Regions from separate parts of the Homo sapiens genome. Here region 1 is linked to region 2. The links come from fine-mapping of genetic effects on gene expression. Tissue or cell type: blood mononuclear cells. Region 2 holds a variant in brackets; the other region holds the start of a gene. All regions are shown on one strand. Distances are between the middles of the regions.

Region 1 (6,218 bases), 75 kb after region 2:
CGCCTGTAATTCCAGGACTTTGGGAGGCCGAGGTGGGCGGATCACGAGGTCAGGAGATGGAGACCATCCTGGCTAACACAGTGAAACCCCGTCTCTACTAAAAAATACAAAAAAATGAGTCCCAGCTACTCAGGAGGCTGAGGCAGGAGAAAGGCGTGAACCCGGCAGGCAGAGCTTGCAGTGAGCGGAGATCACACCAATGCACTCCAGCCTGGGCAACAGAGCAAGAATCCGTCTCAAAAAAAAAAAAAAGAATGTGTGAATCTGCACCTGTAATCCCAGAACTCCGAGAGGCGGAGGTGGGAGGATCACTTGAGCCCAGGAGTTTAAGACCATCCTGGGCAACATAGCAAAACTCTGGCTCTATAAAAATTAGCCAAGTGTTATGGCACACAACTGTGGTCCCAGCTACTTGGGAGGCTGAGGTGGGAAGATCACATGAACACAGGAGGTCCAGGCTGCAGTGAGCAGCGATCATGCCACTGCACTCCAGCCTAGGCAACAGAGCAAGACCCTACCTCCAAAAAAAAAATAGGAATTCGTGAACCTGGCCAAGCATGGTGGCTCACACCTGTAACCTGTAATCCCAGCACTTTGAGAGGATCACTTGAGGCCAGGAGTTGGAGACCAGCCTGGGCAACATATCAAGACACCCCCACACCAACCCCATATCTACAAAAAATTGGGGGCATAGTGGCACGTGCCTATAGTTCAGAGCTTTGGGAGGATGAAGCAGGAGGATCACTTAAGCCCAAGACTTTGAGACTGCAATGAGCTGTGATTACACCACTGCACCCCAGACTGAGTGATGAAGCAAGACTTTGTCTCTTTAAAAAAAAAAAAATTGTGAACGTTATACAAATTAAATCTCAAATCATGAAAGCATTTGAGGATATGTCCCTGAACAAGCAAAAATTATAGCAAAAAGTAACATTAACAAGGTACTCCATATTATTTCATTTAAAACACCCAATAACCCTGCAAACTAGTCAGGTATCATTATCCACACTACCAGTAAAGAAACTGAGACCTAGAGAAGCGGACTAGACCAGAACCACAAAGTTATGAAGTTGTGACACTTGGGCTTTAAATCCAAGATTTTAGTATTGAAATTCCCAAATCTTTCCTTTATACCTTGTCATGTGATGATAGAGATAGGGACACAGCACTAACAGTATTCCCTGGCTTTCTGCTACTAATTCAACAGGGCTACAGGACAGAAGGTCTCCCAGACTCTCACATACCCCATCACACCCAGCCAATGTTAAAGCCCCAATTCTTTGTGGGGGAAAAAAATGACCTAAATGCAACAAATCAATCAGATTTTTCTCCTTGGAGTCCAAGGTTGACTAAATATCTTTACTATAACAGAGGATGACATTCTCAAAGAATGAATTAATTCTAAATTATGAACAAAAATATTTTACATCAAAAGACAGTTTTACTTCAAATAATATGTACTCACAGCTAAGTACAGTACTGTTACATATTAGAAGACCACCTTACACCATATTTCGCCACATTTAAAACGAGAGCTCCACTTCTGAAAACTTTGCTAGTGGAAACGAGACAATTTAAACTATTACCTCTTCCAGGTCTTGTTACATAAATAAGTGCAACCTATCTAAATTCCAATAATGAACAAACCCAGCTCTGGTCTCAAAGCTGGTGTTAAACAAACGGCATTTACATCACACGCTTCTCCTCCAAGAAATACAACTAGACAACCAGAAACATCCCAAGTTATAAGTTTTCCCACGACTCTAACCAATCAGCTGGTTCTCATATTTGTCAGCCCTATTAACCTTATGTCTTAAAATACATACATATTCTTATGTCAAATATAGTTGTTTCTAACAGCTACAGCAAAACCCCTTTCAATAGAGTATGCCAATAATAAAATAAGTATATACTTATGAAACCTCTCCAGTACGTAACACTTCATTAAAATTTCTGCCACAAAAATCTAATGAACACTACCTTTCCGGGGTTTACATGTGGGAAAACTTTGTAATATGCTTAGAGTATCAAGTAATATAACATGCAAACACAATGCTGCATTACTACAGAGTAACTGAAGAAAGTATTTCTCCTCCTCCAAAAAAAAACTCAATCATTCTCATCCGAAATACATATACACAGTACACGCAAAAATATACACCTGTCACAGACTATTAGTTACTATTAGTGTTCTGTAAACTTAAATTAGTTTGGAGAACTTAACAAAAGTTTAGCTTGTTAACACCTAAAAATCTCCAGCGACCAGCGGTCACATGCCTGAAAAGAACTTACTATGAACGCCAGTAAGAACTTTACCAAACCAAAACTACAAGCCACCGTATCGAGCAGTACTTAAATTCCTCTGCTGGTAAATGCTCCACAGCCATCACAGCCATCTCAAGTTCAACACTAAATAGTTTGAGAAGAGCTGCCGACGGGCCAGTCAAAAATCTTTGTGAACTGTCACAAAAGTCACAGAGCATGTGTCAGCTTTGCAGTCCAATTCAAAACATCATAGTGCCATCGAATTCAAGCGATTCCCAGAGCAAATTATCTCGAACAGCCTATGCAATTTACCAAAGTGCCAAGCAGTCCCCAGGGGTGCAGAGCAAATTATCATTTTGGTCCCAGGACCGGCTCCTCTTCACACGAGGATGAATTTCCCTACTTAGTGCCAACTGTACACTTGCATACTCCGAAAATAGGGGCAAGCCGTGAATACCAGAGGTTACAAGGGCAATGTTTTATTTTATTATGGGCTGAAGCTCAGAAGGCTCCCAATGCTGAAACGCTCGACCTATAACCCCGGAGTCACTTTCCAACTGCGCTCTCACCCAGGGTCATTATATCCCAAACGGAAGCCAATCATTACCTGTAACAAGGCCTGGAAAAAATAGCAAGAGGGCTTTAAAAGTTCACCTAAGAAACACCGAAACGGGGTGGGGAGTGGGTGGCGGGGCTTCGATGGATAAGGCCAACCTTAAAGCATCTCGGACTCAAACATTTTAAAAGCCAAAATACGTACAAAGACCCTTTTCCCTGGAAGACCCCAGGCAGAGAGAGGCACACAGACACTCAGTCATCCCGACAGCATGGGGTGCCAAGGGTTCCCTAAGACCAGCAGCCGGGATCGAAGCTCCGATGTGTCCGGGGAAGGTCTGGGAAGCCAGGCCAGGTCCGCATTGTGGCCGGGCGGTGCACGCAGCCCCTGCTCCCGGGCCCCTTTCTCTCCCCCTCCCCACGACCAGGCCTCTCCCCGCTCCTCTCCCCTTCTCCCTTCCTCCGTCCCTCCCCTCCCCCTAGACACATACAACAAGGCCACCTCCCCCCGAACCCCACCAACTTTCCAGTGCCCCCACTCTTCCCACCTCTCAGGAGCACACAGAAGCTGCAGGCCAGGAGGCTCCTCAGGACGGCCCCCATCTTCCCTTCTCGCGTTCTCTTCTCTCACCGGCGAGGGGTGGCCAGAAGTGGGGGAGGCGAGGAGCCGGGGCGGCCGCCGCAGCGGCAGGGCTGCACGCTCATACTTCCCAGCTTCCCAGCGAGAGAAGAAAGAAAGGGGCACGTCAAGGTTCCGCGCGCGCCGCCGCCGCCCTCTCTACCGCGCCGCTCGGCCCCGGGCTCGCGCGACGCCAGCGTCTGCTTCCATCCCGCCGCCTCCTCCCCCGGCGCCCCGCTTCCCCCGCGCAGCTCCTCATTCAGCCTCTGCCTCGCGCAGCGGCGCAGGGATACGGTCGGCACCGCCTCCTAGGGTCGCCGCGACCGTGTCCCTGCGCGCAACGAGCCCCTTCTCCCGGTACTGCCTCCTGTACGGCCAGGGAAGGGAGTCGGCAACCGCACGCACAGCCTCTGCCTGAGACCCTGGGAGAGGTTCTGGGCTAGCAGAGGCGAACTGGGAGGGAAAGCCTCCTCCCGGTGGCGCATTCCAGCGGGATTCTTTCCCGGACCGGCCGCTTCGGCCCTCCCCGCGGAGGGCGTGAGGCGGCGTTGAACAACATTGGAGCCGGCGTGGTCGGGACTACTTTCTGCGGCTCGGCCGGGCAGCCGTCTGCCCCGCTCTTTGTGCGGCCGCCGCCGGCAGGGCCAGGTGGGGCTCCGGTCTCGCGCCCCCAGCCACCTGAGACTGCCCAGCCGCGGTGCACGCGCGGGGAGCCACGGCGGATCCCGTTGCGGGGTGATGAGCTCCGTCTTCGGGGTTGGAAATCGGTTTCAGCATCCTTTTTTTGGGAGGGCGGAATTTTTGAACGCTGTTTACACCGGCTTTCAGCGTGGATCTGGTGAACGATATTAAAACGCCAATTCAAAACTGAGATTGTCATTTTTCTCCCGCCTTCCCAGAAATACAAACTGCCCCCAGAATTAAGCCCGACCAGCTAAAGATTTCTAAACTGGCAGATAAAATTCCAAGATAAATGCCTCAAAACCTAAGAGCAAAGGGACAATTGGACAAGACTATTTAGGATTTTACAAGTTGCATATAATAACGAATGTTTGGCATGCTTCGATTATCAATTCTCAGCTTGAGAAGGAAAAGATTCCCTAGAATCTCAGACTGTGCACAGCCTCTGCTACTCCCAGTGCATTGGGCATTCAGGAGTAATGGCCCAGACGCCCCCTGAAATCACCTGCCAGGCTTTCGTCTGGGCAGAGGCGCTCCAACAGTTAACCCTAATGGAGCCATCAGATGCATCCTGCCCAGCTGTCACACGCCCTTACCTGGAGGCAGATGGGCAAGAAAGTGGAGCTGCTACCACAATGTTAACAAGTACCTCAGTGACATTGGAGTTCACTAGTGCTTGAACACAAGTTATCATATTTGACACTCAAAACTACCCTGGGGAAAGGCAGGTTTTGTTACTTATTCTTTATTGCACAGAGGAGCAAAATGAGAACCTGAGAGGTTAATGACTTACCCAGGGCCACTCAAGTAATGAATAGCAGTACCTCAGCCCAATCCAGGTCTCTGACTTAAGCCACTCCGCTCCTTCCAAGAAATGCGCGCTGAACCAAAGGTGCTGCAGGTTTGTAAGTAGATGGACAGCAGAAACAGCCAAATCACTTTCTCCCAAATTCACCTGAGGTCTAGTCACCGTTTATTTAAATGACCTGCTTCTAAGAACCAAGTGAGTTTTGTATTCTGGCTTCCTCAAAGCAGGAAACTGGGCCGGGGGCGGGTGGCTCAGGCCTGTAATCCCAGCACTTTGGGAGGCCGAGGCGGACAGATCACGAGGTCAGGAGTTCGAGACCAGCCTGGTCCAACATGGTGAAACCCCCGTCTCTACTAAAAATACAAAAAAAATTAGCCGGGCATGGTGGCACACGCCTGTCATCCCAGCTGCTCAGGAGGCAGAGGCAGGAGAATGGCTTGAATCCAGGAGGCGCAGGTTGCAGTGAGCCGATATCGCGTCATTACACTCCAGCCTGGGCAACAGAGCAAGATTGCGTCTCAGAAAAAAAAAAAAAAAGAAAAGAAAGTTAACCTTCACTTTCACAGGCCCCTTCCAATGTCTGGGGAGGGGCCTTTATGGTATGTTCACATGGTCCTATTTGCAAAACAAAGATAATTTTGAATTCCTCTTCTGTATAATTGTATTATACAAAATTGTATAAGCTTCAAGTCCCACAAAGCCTGGATCTGTCCCTATTTATAATAGAAAATGCGGTACAACTGGCCGGGCACGGTGGCTCACGGCTGTAATCCCAGCACTTTGGGAGGCCGAGGCAGGCGGATCACGAGGTCAGGAGATCGAGACCATCTTGGCTAACACGGTGAAACCCCGTCTCTACTAAAAATACAAAAAATTAGCCGGGCGCGGTGGCGGGCGCCTGTAATCCCAGCTACTCAGGAGGCTGAAGCAGGAGAATGGCGTGAACCCGGGAGGCGGAGCTTGCAGTGAGCCTAGATAGCGCCACTGCAGTCCAGCCTGGGCGAAAGAGCGAGACTCCGTCTCGAAAAAAATAAAATAAAATAAAAAAGAAAATGCGGTACAACCTAAATCTCCTCAGACTATCAACCTAAGTAGGGGAATGAGATATTACACACTGCTGAAAAATAATAATTTAGAGGATTATGCAACAGTGTTGAATGTTTATAGTGAGTTAAGCTTTTTTTTTTTTTTTTTTTTTTTTTGAGACGGAGTTGTGCTCTTGCTGCCTGGACTGGAGTAAAATGGCACAATCCCGGCTCACCACAACTTCCTCCTCCCAGGTTCAAGTGA
Region 2 (7,656 bases):
ATTTCTAAATTTTCTTCTTCTATCATAACGTCACCTCTCCCATTAAAATGATCTTAGTTCACATTAACACATACAAATCTTGAGTAATACATACCAATAGGTCAAATACACCTATAAAAAATAATTCACATAATGAATTCATATATATTTTTAAGGTGTCCAAAAGCCCCAAACAAGCATTTGGGAATAGTCCCTAACTTGGCAGCAGCCTCAAGTTCAGTACAAGATACCCGGCAGAGAGAGAGCACTGCTTTTTCATTGTTTGCACTGCTGTCAAATCCTACTCTTCAACTACCATCTCTGGACTCACAGCTTCCACCCTTTCACACAATTCATGTCATCAGACAGAGAAAGGTAAGCAATGAGAAAAATCACAGGGGTTACAGTTGGCACTGAAGTAGATTTATATCAGCAATAGGTTTTTTCCTTCTTGATGTGGAAGAACAAAGAACCTGAGCCTGTTTTGTCCATCACTTCTTATGGTTTTGATAACTGAGAATGAAACATAAACATGAGGCCAAAATGGCATGCAGGTAGCACTCTCCCCGCAAACCCCAGTCTAGCTCCAGCAAGTGATCATCTTAGCTGACTTTTCACTATATTCAGGCAGCCAAAAAGAAGTCCTGTTAGTGGTAGAATATGTTCATGAGACAAAGCAGATCCAAAATTTTCACAAGCAATACATACTTTTTAAAAGGAAAAGTAGACAGCCTAGTTAGTACTTAAGGCACAGAACTTTGTAGAGTATTAGAGAGAGTTATAGAATAAGCAAATGCTGAGGGCCGGGCGCAGTGGCTCACGTCTGTAATCCCAGCACTTTGGGAGGCCGAGGTGGGTGGATCACAAGGTCAGGAGTTCAAGACCAGCCTGGCCAAGATGGTAAAACCCCATCTCTACTAAAAATACAAAAAAATTAGCCAGGCGTGGTGGTGGGCGCCTGTAATCCCAGACACTCGGAAGGCTGAGGCAGAGAACTGCTTGAATCCAGGAGGCGGAGGTTGCAGTGAGCCGAGATCGCGCCACTGCACTCCAGCCTGGGCGACAGAGCGAGACTCATCTCAAAAAAAAAAAAAAGAAAAAAAAAAGAATAAGCAAATGCTCTGGAATAATGAACAAATCACGTTTTGAGTCAAAATAATATTCAAGAAAATACATGTTTTGATATTTTCATAAATCCAAGTTTCCCAATAGCCCACCCAGGAGGCAGAGATGGGCAGAGAGGGAGGAAGGGAAAGAAAAATGAAGGGAAAAGGGAAGGGAAAGCATAAGCTACTGAAGAGAAATTAAAAGTATCATATATTTTAAGGAAGATGATTCAATTTTCAGGTCCTTGAGGTTAACTGATGATTTCTACTATCTAACAGACTACCAGCATATTAAATTAAAAGCAATTAAGGTCATTTTTACGTGTAAGCAGGATTACCGTCTGTGATTGCACATGGAATGATCTTAGTCTAAAGCATTATAAATTCAGACAAAATACCTGCACTGCCAACCCATATCACCAGTTTTCTCATTTTCCTTAATCCTCTCTTCCCTAAGTAAAAAGCTCACTATTCCTTCTAATTTCCCAAAGAGAACTGTCACAATACCTTCTCCTGAAGTGCTTTCTTCCACTTTTTAAATGGACAGTTTTATTAAATTTACTAAAGAGACTATATTATTTACAGGGTGATGGCACAGTTTATGTTCAATTTTAAACAGGCCTGTATATTTCACACTAAAGTCTTCCAAAATTCATGGTGGAAACAGAGAGAGAACTGAGAAAGCTGCCAAAAAAGACAAGTAACACAAATGAAAAATAAAGAGTAGTTAAAACTAAGTTACTTGGCATTTCACCATCTTAAAGAACTGCTTTGAAAAACTCAAGGAAAAAAAAGGCTTCAAAAAGTTTTGTATATCATTAAGTGAAAAGTTGAAATTCACTCTACTGAACTAAACATAGGAAAATAAACATATGGAAAAGGCAAAATCCCTAAAAGCTATATTCATTTTATATATTAATTGAATGCATAAACTTAGAACTCAGAGGTGAGCTTAAATCCCCCCTTGACACTTATTACTGACACCATTTCTGCAAGCTTTATTTCTTCATCTGTCAACGGAAGGTAATAATCTATCCTCACTGCGTTAATGTGAAGATTAA[A/G]TAACATACGCAAAAGCCATTCAGCACTACGCTTGCTACTTAACACTTTCGTTAATGATTCCTCAATTTTAAGACACATATTTTCAATATTTTAACATTTCTGATATAAGGGTAACATTTACAATGTGAATATTTCATGTGGTAGTTTTTAAAATCAGTAAGTTCTTAAAATCAATGGCTTATTAGAATCAGTAAATACTATACTAATATTAATTTTTTTTTTGAGACAAAGTCTTGATCTTGTCACCCAGGATGGAGTGCAGTGGTGTGATCCTGGCTCACTGCAACCTCCGCCTCCAGGGTTCAAGCAATTCTCCTGCCTCAGCCTCCCAAGTAGCTGGGATTATAGGCATGCACCACCATGCCTGGCTAATTTTGTATTTTTAGTAGAGATGGGGTTTCACCATGTTGACCAGGCTGGTCTCAAACTCCTGACCTCAGGTGATCTGCCCACCTTGGCCTCCTAAAATGCTGGGATTACAGGCGTGAGCCACCGAGCCCGGCCTTAACACTAAATATAAATGTCACTTTCTTTTCATAGCCATTCTTAATTTCCTCCCGCCACAAGCCAAGTTAGTTTTCTTTCTCTACGTTCTCATAACAGTTAGTGAACTGTTTTATAACTGTTCACCTATCCAGCAACTCTATAACAGATGACCTTTTTGAGAGTAAAACTCTAGCTTATTTATATACCAAGGATCCCACACAATGGTAAGGTGTACAAATTAGGCAGACTTACTAAACACTCTGGGGATGCTTGATAAAATTAAATGTTTTTAAGAAAATATGTAATTAACAGAGCTGAACAAAAGGCAGAACTAAGAACACTATCATGCAAGGGTGATATAATGATTTGTCCAGCCAACTATGACTTGTTCCTGAAAGTAGGGATAACCACACAGAGTATTCCCCTTTCTTCTCTCTGGCTGAGATTACCAAGTAAGCCTACCTCCTGATCCCCATCTGGAAACACAAGTTACTTCAAGGAGGAGTTGATCATGGCTGCTAAGAACCAAGCTGGCAGGTAAGATCCAAGCCCAGTTCCTCAATAGTAGGTCACAACGATAACAGAAACTAAAAAATGGATCACCAAACTGGGGACCACAGAAAAGAAACAGAGACTCCCCCCAACCTCACTGAAGTTTTCATATAGTGCTTGCAATCTCTGAGCATCATCTCCTGCCTATGTCTGTCACATTCTGCAACTTACTGATAAAGCTCACCACTGCCAATACCTCCCAGGCACCTCTTGCTAGCTCTTTGAGATTCTTTGAACTCTGCAAGTGGTTCTTTTAAACTCTGCACCAACTGGACTTATCCTTTATAAAACACCTGCATGCCCTCATTTAGTTTTTGTTTCTGGACCTCCTCACAGATAGTCATCTTCTGCTCCTCTCTCAGAACTGCCCACTTGTGTGAGTAATAAATCTTTCTTTAATCATACCACAGGACTGCTGTCATGAGTTCTGACATCTGAACTTAACCTTGGAAGGAAGCTTCCCTTCACCACAGTGAAGCTGTAATAATATCTAAGAAGACAATGTCAGCAGTGATGGCAAAGCTTTGGAAAAATCTCCATGAATCCTCCATGTGAAAACAGAGAACAACTAGGTAATGAACCCCAAATCCCATGGACAACATTCACAACAAAGCTAGGTAAAACCCAAGATACAAAATGGTAGAGAAAACTACCAACAGCCATTAAGATATGACTGATATTGGCACCTCTGCAGGATATGAGAAAGAAACAATAGGACATCTGGCAGGACAGAACACATAAAACAGACAACATTGGAAAGCTTAGTAGACCAATCTGAGAACAGCAACCAGCTATGAGGTGTTCTGGCCACTTCAAGAGTAAGTGAATACAATGAATTCATCGTCAGGCACTGAAAGGTCTAGCACTATACTTTAACCTATTGTGAACTCTCAAAATTGTCCTTCCCGGGCTCCCTTCCAGACAAAGCGTCATACTGAAGAGAAATCACTGGGAGCGGACTGAAAAGTGTGCATGATTGGTACAGGAGAACAATGGGAAAATAAGGTACAGAAAAAAGCAGAAAAAGTAAAGTGGGAGAGCCAGGAAATCCAGAAAGCTAGCTGCCATTATTTTTTAAACACATATACATAGACATGAGAGTTCTGTGAAACTGGAGAACTTATGAACTCTGCCTTCTTCTGAATGTTCAAGCAAAACAGTTTCACCTGAAAATAAGAAAACAAATTACTAACATCAAATCCCATTAATAAGTTAATATTAAAAATAAGAAAAGGATAAAGTGAAGAATAACATTCCTACAGACAATAAAAAAGTATGCCAGAAAGATATAGAAATAGAACAAATTAAACTGATAACTTATTTCAAAACAGTCAAAGTATTTAAAGTAAGATACTAGTCATAAATGAACAACACAAATTAGAATCAGACAACTCACAAGTGAGGGGACAGAACTTGAAAGAATGAGAAATACAAAAATACATCATTTCAGAAATGAAGTCTACGAAATAAGAATGAATAAACATAATACATAAAGAAAAAAATGAAAAGGAAGAAATATTACATAATAGAAAAAAATATTTTCAAAAAATAAAATATTTGAAGGACAAAGGACAAGGAAGAGAACAGAACTATACTGGAACAAGGAAATGACTCCAGATGGTAACTTGAACCCTCAGGAAAAATGAAGAATACCAGAAATAGTAAATATGCAGGTTAATAAAAAAGACTCTATAAATAATGTTTTCTCTTTTTCCTTTAACCTTTTTAACAGACATAAGATTGTATAAAGCAATAAGTATAACCCTGTGTTAGATATAATAGAAATGAACTATAAATGACAATAATAGCAGAAAGGATGGGAGAGAGAATGGAGATATACTTAGAGTAAAATGTATGTACTTTTCATAATTAAGTTAATATTACCACAAAGTAGATTTTGACAAAATGCACGTTGCAATCCCTAAAATAATTACCTTTAAAATCCCCAAAATACAGTTTAAAATTATCAACCAAGGAATCAAAATGACACACCAGAAAATATCTACTTAATACAAAGGACAAAGGAACAAAGATGACATAAGATAATTTAAAAAAAAAAAAACACTAAAATGTCAGACATAAGCCCAACCATATCATTAATGACATTCAATGTGAATAAACACACCAATCAAAAGGCAAAGGCTGTTAGACTGAATAAAGCAAAGGTTACACTATATGCTGTTTATAAAAGCACATTTTACATTCAAAGATACAAATAGATTGAAAAGAAAAGGTTACAGTAGACAGTAACCATAAGAGAGCTGGAGCAGCTCTATCAGACAAAAAAGATTTTAAGTATAAAAAGGTAACTAGAGATACAGTGGCAGGTTTTATGAGAAAGAGTCATCAGGAAGTTACAATTAGAAACATACAGGTACCTAAAAACAGAGCCCCAGAACAAATGAAGCAAAACCTGACAGAAATCAAAGGAAAAATGGGCAGTTCAATAATATAGTTGGAGAGCTCAACACCCTATTCTCACTAAAGGAAAGAACAACTAGATAGAAAATTACCAAGGATATAGAAAATTTGAACATTATTAACCAACTTAACCTACTATCTATAGAACATTCCATGCAACAAAAGAATACACAATCTTTTCACGTACACGTGGAACTTTCTCCAGGACACCACATGCTAGGAGACAGAATTAATCTTAAAAGACTGAACTCATATAAAATAAAAAGACTGAACTCATATAAAATAGACTACTATCTGACCATAATGAAATTCATGAAGAAATCAACGGAAGAAAATTTGGGAAATCAAATTATTTTCTAAATTTTTGAAATTTCTTTCTCAATTTCCTCTAAATCAGCAATGAGTCGAGGAAGAAATTACAATAAAAGTTTTTAAATATTTTGAGCTAAAAGAAAATGAAAATACAAAATATGGAAACGTATATAGAATACTAATGCCTATACTAGAAAAGAAGAGAGATTACAAATCAATTATTTATGATTTGACCTTAAGAAACTGTAAGAAGAGTAGATTAAATCCAAAGCAAGTGTAAGGAAGAAAATAAAAACATTAGGGTTAAAAAAAAAAAAGGCAATGAAACAGAAAACAGAAAAACAATAAAGGGGGAAAAATCAATAAAACCAGAAGCTGGTTGTTCTTTGAAAAGACCCACAAAATTGACAACCCTTTAGTGCTAGACTGACCCAAAAAAAAAGACGCAAATTGTGAAAACTGTGAATAAAGTGATGAATGAAAGAGAAACACTGCCTTACAGAAATTAAAAGGATTATTAGGCAATACCATAAACAACTTTATGCCAACAAATTAGACAAATTTATGAAACAAAAATATTCCTGGAAAAAAACCAAATTACTAAAACTGACTCAAGAAGAAACAGAAAATCTGATAGATCTACAACAAACAAGGAAATTGAATTTGTAATTAATATCTTCCCAAAAAGAAATCCCCATGCCCAGATGGCAGGAAAAGTTGTATCAACTGGTCACACACTTTTCCAGAAAACAAAGAAAGAGGAAATATCTTCCGACTCTATGAGGCTGATATTATGCTAATCTCAAAACCAAATAAACACAAGAAAAACAGACTACGGATTAATATCCTTCACTATTAAAGACATAAAAATCCTCAACAGAATATTAGCAAACCAAATCTAACAACATTTCAAAAGAAGTATAAACCACGACCAAGTAGAACTTACCCCAGAAATGCAAGATCGGTTTAACAACTGAAAACCAATTACTGAAATTCACCATGTTCATAAAATAAAGAATAAAACCACATAATCATTTCCATAGATGCAGAAAAAGGAACGGACAAAATCCAGTAATTATTCATGGTAAATCTGTCCATGAACTAGGAATAGAAAGGAACTTCCTCAACCTGATAAAATCCCTTTATTAAAAAAACCTACAGGTAATATCATGCTCAAGACTATTTTTAATCTTTTTTAAAAAATAAAGCCAATACAGAGAAAAACATACAAAACAAACATATAGCTTAACAAGTTACTATAAGGCAAACACTCTTGTAACCACGAATTCACTCAGATGAAGGAAAAAAACTTGATCTGGGTGAATCACCCAGACGACTTCAAAAGGCCCTGCATGAACCCTGTCCCAATCCCTCCCTCTCCATAGAAGTAACAATTATTCTGATTTTCTATTAGTCACTTTCTTGCCTTTATAGTTTTATTGCTTTTTGTAAGTGTGCATCCACAGAAAAATAGTTTAGTCTTAAGCCCCATTTTCATTTGCTATTTCTTTTAAAGTCTCTGTTTTAAAAAATGTTTAACTGGTACATAATAATTACACATATTTGTGGGGTACACAGCAATGTTGCAATATATATAAGGTACCGTGATCAGCTCAGGGTAATCAGCATATCCATAATCTCAAACATTTAACATTTCTGTGTTGGAAACATTCAGTATCCTCTTTGAAATTATATAATGTTTTACCTATTAAGTACAGTCATCCTACAGTGGTATAGA

What was found. PIP is the estimated chance that this variant, and not a neighbour inherited with it, causes the effect.
Region 1: it holds the start of LRP6, and the variant in region 2 is fine-mapped to the expression of LRP6 in blood mononuclear cells (TOPMed, PIP above 0.99).

What each region holds. Positions count from the first base shown.
Region 1 is chr12:12,263,313-12,269,530 of GRCh38, forward strand. It overlaps LRP6 (LDL receptor related protein 6), which reads right to left and starts at 3,732. Exons shown (of 23, transcript NM_002336.3): 1 at 3,369-3,732. The coding sequence starts at 3,423. RefSeq lists enhancers at 62-562, 3,739-4,375, 3,913-3,962 and a silencer at 3,423-3,732.
Region 2 is chr12:12,187,150-12,194,805 of GRCh38, forward strand. The region is part of intron 3 of LRP6 (LDL receptor related protein 6); the gene reads right to left. Among named protein-coding and RNA genes, the nearest start is that of LRP6, 76 kb to the right of the region's middle. RefSeq lists a silencer at 3,806-4,100. The variant A/G (reference allele first, on the strand shown) is at 2,147.